Regions from separate parts of the Homo sapiens genome. Here region 1 is linked to region 2. Evidence: fine-mapped expression QTL. A gene starts in region 2. The other region holds a variant in brackets. All regions are shown on one strand. Distances are between the middles of the regions. Region 1 overlaps SYT9 (synaptotagmin 9). Region 2 holds the start of SYT9 (synaptotagmin 9).

Evidence for each region. PIP is the estimated chance that this variant, and not a neighbour inherited with it, causes the effect.
Region 1: its variant is fine-mapped to the expression of SYT9 in cerebellar hemisphere (GTEx, PIP above 0.99). The same link has a PIP of 0.9 or more in cerebellum.

What each region holds. Positions count from the first base shown.
Region 1 is chr11:7,372,246-7,375,159 of GRCh38, reverse strand. All of the region lies in intron 3 of SYT9 (synaptotagmin 9), which reads right to left. Among named protein-coding and RNA genes, the nearest start is that of SYT9-AS1, 92 kb to the left of the region's middle. The variant A/G (reference allele first, on the strand shown) is at 1,629.
Region 2 is chr11:7,250,437-7,253,350 of GRCh38, reverse strand. It overlaps SYT9 (synaptotagmin 9), which reads right to left and starts at 1,447. Exons shown (of 7, transcript NM_175733.4): 1 at 1,020-1,447. The coding sequence starts at 1,164. RefSeq lists a silencer at 1,415-1,554.

The DNA.
Region 1 (2,914 bases), 120 kb before region 2:
GGTGTTGGCAAAACTGGCTAGCCATATGCAGAAAACTGAGACTGGACCCCTTCCTTACACCTTATACAAAAATTAACTCAAGATGGATTAAAGACTTAAACGTAAGACCTAAAACCATAAAAACCCTAAAAGGAAACCTAGGCAATAATTCAGGACATAGGCATGGGCAAAGACTTCATGACTAAAACACCGAAAGCAATGGCAACAAAAGCTAAACTTGACAAATCAAATCTAATTAAACTAAAGAGATTCTGCACAGGGAAAGAAACTATCATCAGAGTGAACAGGCAACCTACAGAATGGGAGAAAATTTTTGCAATCTATCCATCTGACAAAGGGCTAATATCCAGAATCTACAAGGAACTTAAACAAATTTACAAGAAAAAAACAATCAACCCCATCGAAAAGTGGGTGAAGGATATGAACAGACACTTCTCAAAAGAAGACATTTATGTGGCCAAGAAACATATGGCAAAAAGCGCATCATCATTGGTCATTCGAGAAAAGAAAATCAAAACCACAATGAGATACCATCTTGTGCCAGTTAGAATGGCAATCATTAAAAAGTCAGGAAGCAACAGATGGTGGAGAGGATGTGGAGAAATAGGAACGCTTTTACTCTGTTGGTGGGAATGTAAATTAGTTCAACCATTGTGGAAGACAGTGTGGCAATTCCTCAAGGATCTAGAACTAGAAATACCATTTGATCTTTAAATCCCATTACTGGGTATATACCCAGTGGATTATAAATCATTCTACTAGAAAGACACATGCACACGTATGTTTGTTGCAGCACTATCCACAATAGCAAAGACTTGGAAACAACCAAATGCCCATAATGATAGACTGAATAAAGAAAATGTGGCACATATACACCATGGAATGTCACATATCCATAAAAAAGAATGAGTTCATGTCCTTTGCAGGGACAGGGATGAAGCTGGAAACCATCATTCTCAGCAAACTAACAAAGGAACAGAAAACCAAACACGGCATATTCTCACTCATAAGTGGGAGTTGAACAATGAGAACATATGGGCACAGGGAGGGGAACATCACACACCAGGGCCTGTTGGGGGTGTGGAGCAAGGGGAGGGATAGCATTGGGAGAAATACCTAATGTAGATGATGGGTTGATGGGTGCAGGAAACCACCATGGCAAATGTATACCTATGTAACAAACCTGCATGTTCTGCACATGTACCCCAAAACTTAAAGTATAATAATAATAATAAAAGAACTCTCTAGGACAATCTAGAAAAATGTAAAAAGAATGTTGGACATGTTCATCAGGAAGCCTTTCCCCCAAACGAAGTGTCCCAATTACAACAATTGCAGGCATCTCCTTCCAAGGTCTCTAACAGAGAAAATTTAAGGCTTTCCCACCCTCCAGGTGCTTCCAAACATCTGGAGGAGGGAGTCCAGGCATTATTCTGAGTTATGTGAAACTGCCATTTTTGTAGGTTGAAACTGGTGGGATATGGGGAGTTTCATATGTTCAACCTATTACATGGCTCAGGGCCAGTAGAACTGTGTTTATTGCTGCCCTAGGTACACCCTGCAGCTTAGTTCATGAGGGCTTATTCCAAAATAAAATACAAATCTGAACAACTCAGGGCCTCTGGAAC[A/G]GAGACAAAGCCTATGCTTGGCAGCAGGGGAACCAAGAGCAGTTTCCAGAGCAGGTAAAACAGGGAGCCTTAGGAACCTCCAGAGCTCGACATATGCCAGTATAACAATATAGGAAGAGGAGAGGTGAGGTAGGGAAAAATCTCTCAAGGGTGAAATAGGGGAATGGGAATGATAAAATAACACGTGTAGCTGATGTATTAAAAAATACATTCCAGAGGAGAAAATAATAACAATGCTCCAACTCTTCTATTAAGTTTAGTATAACCCTGAAACCAGTATCAGACAAAGATGCACAAAACAAGGAAGCATATCCATCAAAACAATAACAACAAAGGATGCAAACAAAACTATAGGTCAATTCTTATGTGAATATAATTTTAAAATACTATATAATGTATTAATGAATAAAATCTATCAGTATTAAGAATACACGTCGGCCAAGTAGGATTTATCCCAGAGGCATGGATATTTCAAAATTAGTAAACTAGGAATATAATAAATCATATTAATGAACTGAAGGAGAAAAATTATGCAAACATCTCAATAGAAAAATATTGGGGAATATTTAGCATCCATTCCTAATAAAAATAAATATAAAACCTAATACTGTAACACTAATAACATTATCATTATATTCAGGATCAGTATCGGCTGTCACCACAATTACTCAACAGTTTGGGAGGTTCCAGCTTATGCCATAAAATAATAAAACACGTAAAAGGTAAAATTACAGCAAAAGAGAAGCAAATATATAATTTTTCAAAGAGCATATAATTGCTTAGCTGGAAATCCAATATAACCAAGTGAAGAACTATTGAAACTAATGAGACCAGTGGCTAAGAATAAGTATATAAAAATAAAGAATTCCTACAAATCACAAATCCAAAGATAAACAACACAACTAAAAATGGGGAAAAAAGGAGTGCTTGAAGCCAAGAATTCAAGACCAGTCTGGGCAACATAGAGAGATTCCCCCCTCTACAAAAGAATTTTAAGAAATCACCTGCCTGGGCAATGTAATGAGACCTCATCTTCATAAAAAATTTTAAAATTAGCTAAGGATTGTGGTGCATGACTGTAGTTCCAGCTACTCTGGAGGCTGAGATAGGAGGATCACTTAAGCCTGGGATGTGGAGGTTACAGCAAGCTGAGATTGTGCCACTGCACTTCAGCCTGGGTGACATGTGAGATCTAATCTCAAAAAACAAACACACAGAGCGAGAGAGAGAAAAGAAATGAGCAAAAAAACCCCACATAAATTTAATAAAAGAAGATACACAATATG
Region 2 (2,914 bases):
TATTTATACATAGCAATATCAAGAGAAAGGCCATTTTCTCATCCCATTTTTAACAATCCAACCACAATATGCTGTTTTGGTAAGTACTTAGGTTGGGAGAATATTCGAGAAAACTATTTCTCCAGGTGAGAAACATCTCAAGCAAACATTGGAAGGAATGCATTTTCCAGTAGCCAGTAACGGATGAGACGACCTGGGAGACCCAGGGACCTCAGGAAAAGCAAATGGCTCCACTAAAACTCCCTCCTCCAACCTTAATTGGTCAAATGCCAAAATAAATGAACTTTCCAAAGTTAAGAGCTTTGCAACTTTCACTAGGAGTAACTACAGGTGCACAAGCCAGGACCGACGAGTCTACGAACCCCATCGTGGCCGGCGGTAGTCGCTGGTCGAGCCTAGCGCCCAGGCCCAGGCCACCTCCATGCCGTGCGACCCGCCGGGAACGGGTTCAGGCCCGTCTGCCCAAGGCCAGAAGCACCCTGTCCCCGGCCCAACGCCGGATCGCGTCCCGCCCTTCTCACCCCATACCAAGGAAAGGAACTAGACGCTTGGGAGAAAGGATGAGCAGCACCCGGTGGGATTCGGCCCCAACCCGGGGCCGTCCCCAACTCCCAACTTCCCAGAGTTTCCTTCGGCCTCGTCCCCCTTCCCACGGCTCCGAGGCCGCCGCGGCCTCCCCTCGCTCTGAGTGCAGATAGCCCGGGAAGTGGAGAGCGTAGCTCGGAGCTAGGGAGCCGCCCCCAGGAGCCTTGGCGATGGGAGCGCAGGTGGCGGGCGTGGTCCCTCCAACCCTGCCCTAGCCGACCCGGAGTCGGCCTCCGTGCAGTAGCCACCGCCCGGGTCCCCGCCTGGTTACAGCATCAGGCCACAGTGCGCTGGTTCTTGATCACTCTCCTGGCTCGGTGGCCGCCCCCCGCCCTCTCCCAGTCCGCGTCGCTGTTCTGCCTCAGGCCCCGGTGCGGCCCCAAGTCCCAGCCCAGGGCCCTTAGGTCCCTCCAGGCGGCGGTGGCGGCACTCACCTGGGTCGCGGAGCCGGGGTCTGGCACGGTCCCGCAGGTGGTAAATGAAATCCTGGCAGCTGTCGTGCTCCAGGGCCCCACGGGCACAGAGCTCGGCCAGCAGCTGCAGCGCCTGGTGACAGAGCGCGTCCCTGGCCCCGGGCATCGCCCCCCCGCATCCTCGGACCGCGCCGGGCAGGCGGGCGCAGGAGACAGCCCTCCGCCTGCCAGCTCAGAGCCGCCGCCTCCGGGCCGTCCGCGCTCACCGCCAGGGACCTGCCGAGAAACGGTGCGAGCCTGAGCCCGAGCCCCAGACCCAGCCGGCCCGGCCTCCCACCGGTTGCATGCAGCTCTTCGCCAGCCGGTCGGTCAGGCTTTCTCTCTCTCCCGCCCGGTCCCTCCGTCCCTCCCCAGACACCGAGGAGAGGCGGTGCCGCACAGCCCAGAGCGCCTCTCTGCTTGCGCTCCGCCCGCTACTCGCGGCCGCCGGGGGGCGGGGCCAGGTCAGGAGTGCGCGCCGCAGGGTAGGATAGCGGCGGCCCCAGACCGGGGACCTGGGGTACTCCCCGGCTCCTGGCCGAGCGCGAGACTTGGCTTGGGACCTCGCGCCCAGAGCGGCCGCGCCCTGGCTTGGGGAGTGTGAGTGAGTGCGCGCTCCGGGCGCTTTCGCTACTCCACCCCTCATCCCTGATGCAAACCAAGCACCCGCTCCCACCGCCGAGTGTGTCCAAAGCACGTTCTTGGATGCCTAGTGCGAAGGTTACAATCTGGGCACACCCGCCAGATGCGCAGAACCGAGTCCCTGCTTCGAACTTGGAAAGAGCCGCCTGGGTTTGAACCATGGGCCTATGGGTGTCAGATGCCCAAATGCAGGGTTTGGGTCCAAGATTCGCCAACAAAGGAAGGATTTCCCAAGCACAGGCCCTTTTCGACCACTGTGGTGATTTGGATGGAGAAGGTGGAGGCTCTAGGTCAGAACTAAGATCAAATAAATAAACGATTCCTGGGAAAGACCCTGAGGCTTACCTGGGCTTCGTGGGTCCCTTAGTTTTCTAAGCAACCGTTTGGAAATCCAAACATTGCCAAAGTGTCTTCAGCACCCAAGGAGGAGTATCACAGAATCTTGGAGAGTTGGAAGGAACCTCAGGGCACCTCTCATCCACCCATCTTTTCAGCCTTTCAAGCAGTAAAGCCTAGAAATAACCACGAAGTACTCTGGGTGTGTGTGTGTGTGTGTGTGTGTGTGTGTGTGTCACTGTGCCACAAGCCTTTTAGGTACATAATCTCATTTAATTCTGTACATAGCCCAACAAGGTCTGTGTAATTGTTATCCTCATTTTACCAATGAGAAACTGGGGCCTGGGGACTCACAAAGGTGTTACTTGCTCAAATTCATACATGATGAAGGTAGCTTTGATTTTCTCTCTTTCTTTTTTCTTTTTTCCTTCTTTTTCTTTTGTCTTTTTTGTAATACTGGTGTTCAGGCCCCCACTCTAGAGCAATTAGAGTAGGATCTCTAGAACTGGTAACTATCATTCTTAGCCATGAGGTTGTGCCGTCTCTACGGACATATCACAACAATTCATATTTGCACAGAAAGATAATTTGGGATCCTATAGAATGCTCACGCAACAGGCAACCTTTGAAATCCTGCTGTGAATGGTACTAGGGTTTCAGGGAACTTACATGGGAATAGCAGAGAAAATGCAAAGTTGTAAAGGTAAAGATGCCTCCAGAGAGTTGCAAAGAGACAAACAGAGGGAGGAGAAACCAGCTTTAAGGGAGCCTGTAGGGGAGGTTGAGCAGATGCTGTTTCTTCAAAGGGGGGAACCCCTAGAGAAGAAGAAAAAGGCCATGAACAGAGAAGGTGACACCAGAGATAGTGTGATGCTGGGGGGGGGTGGCGGGGGGGACAT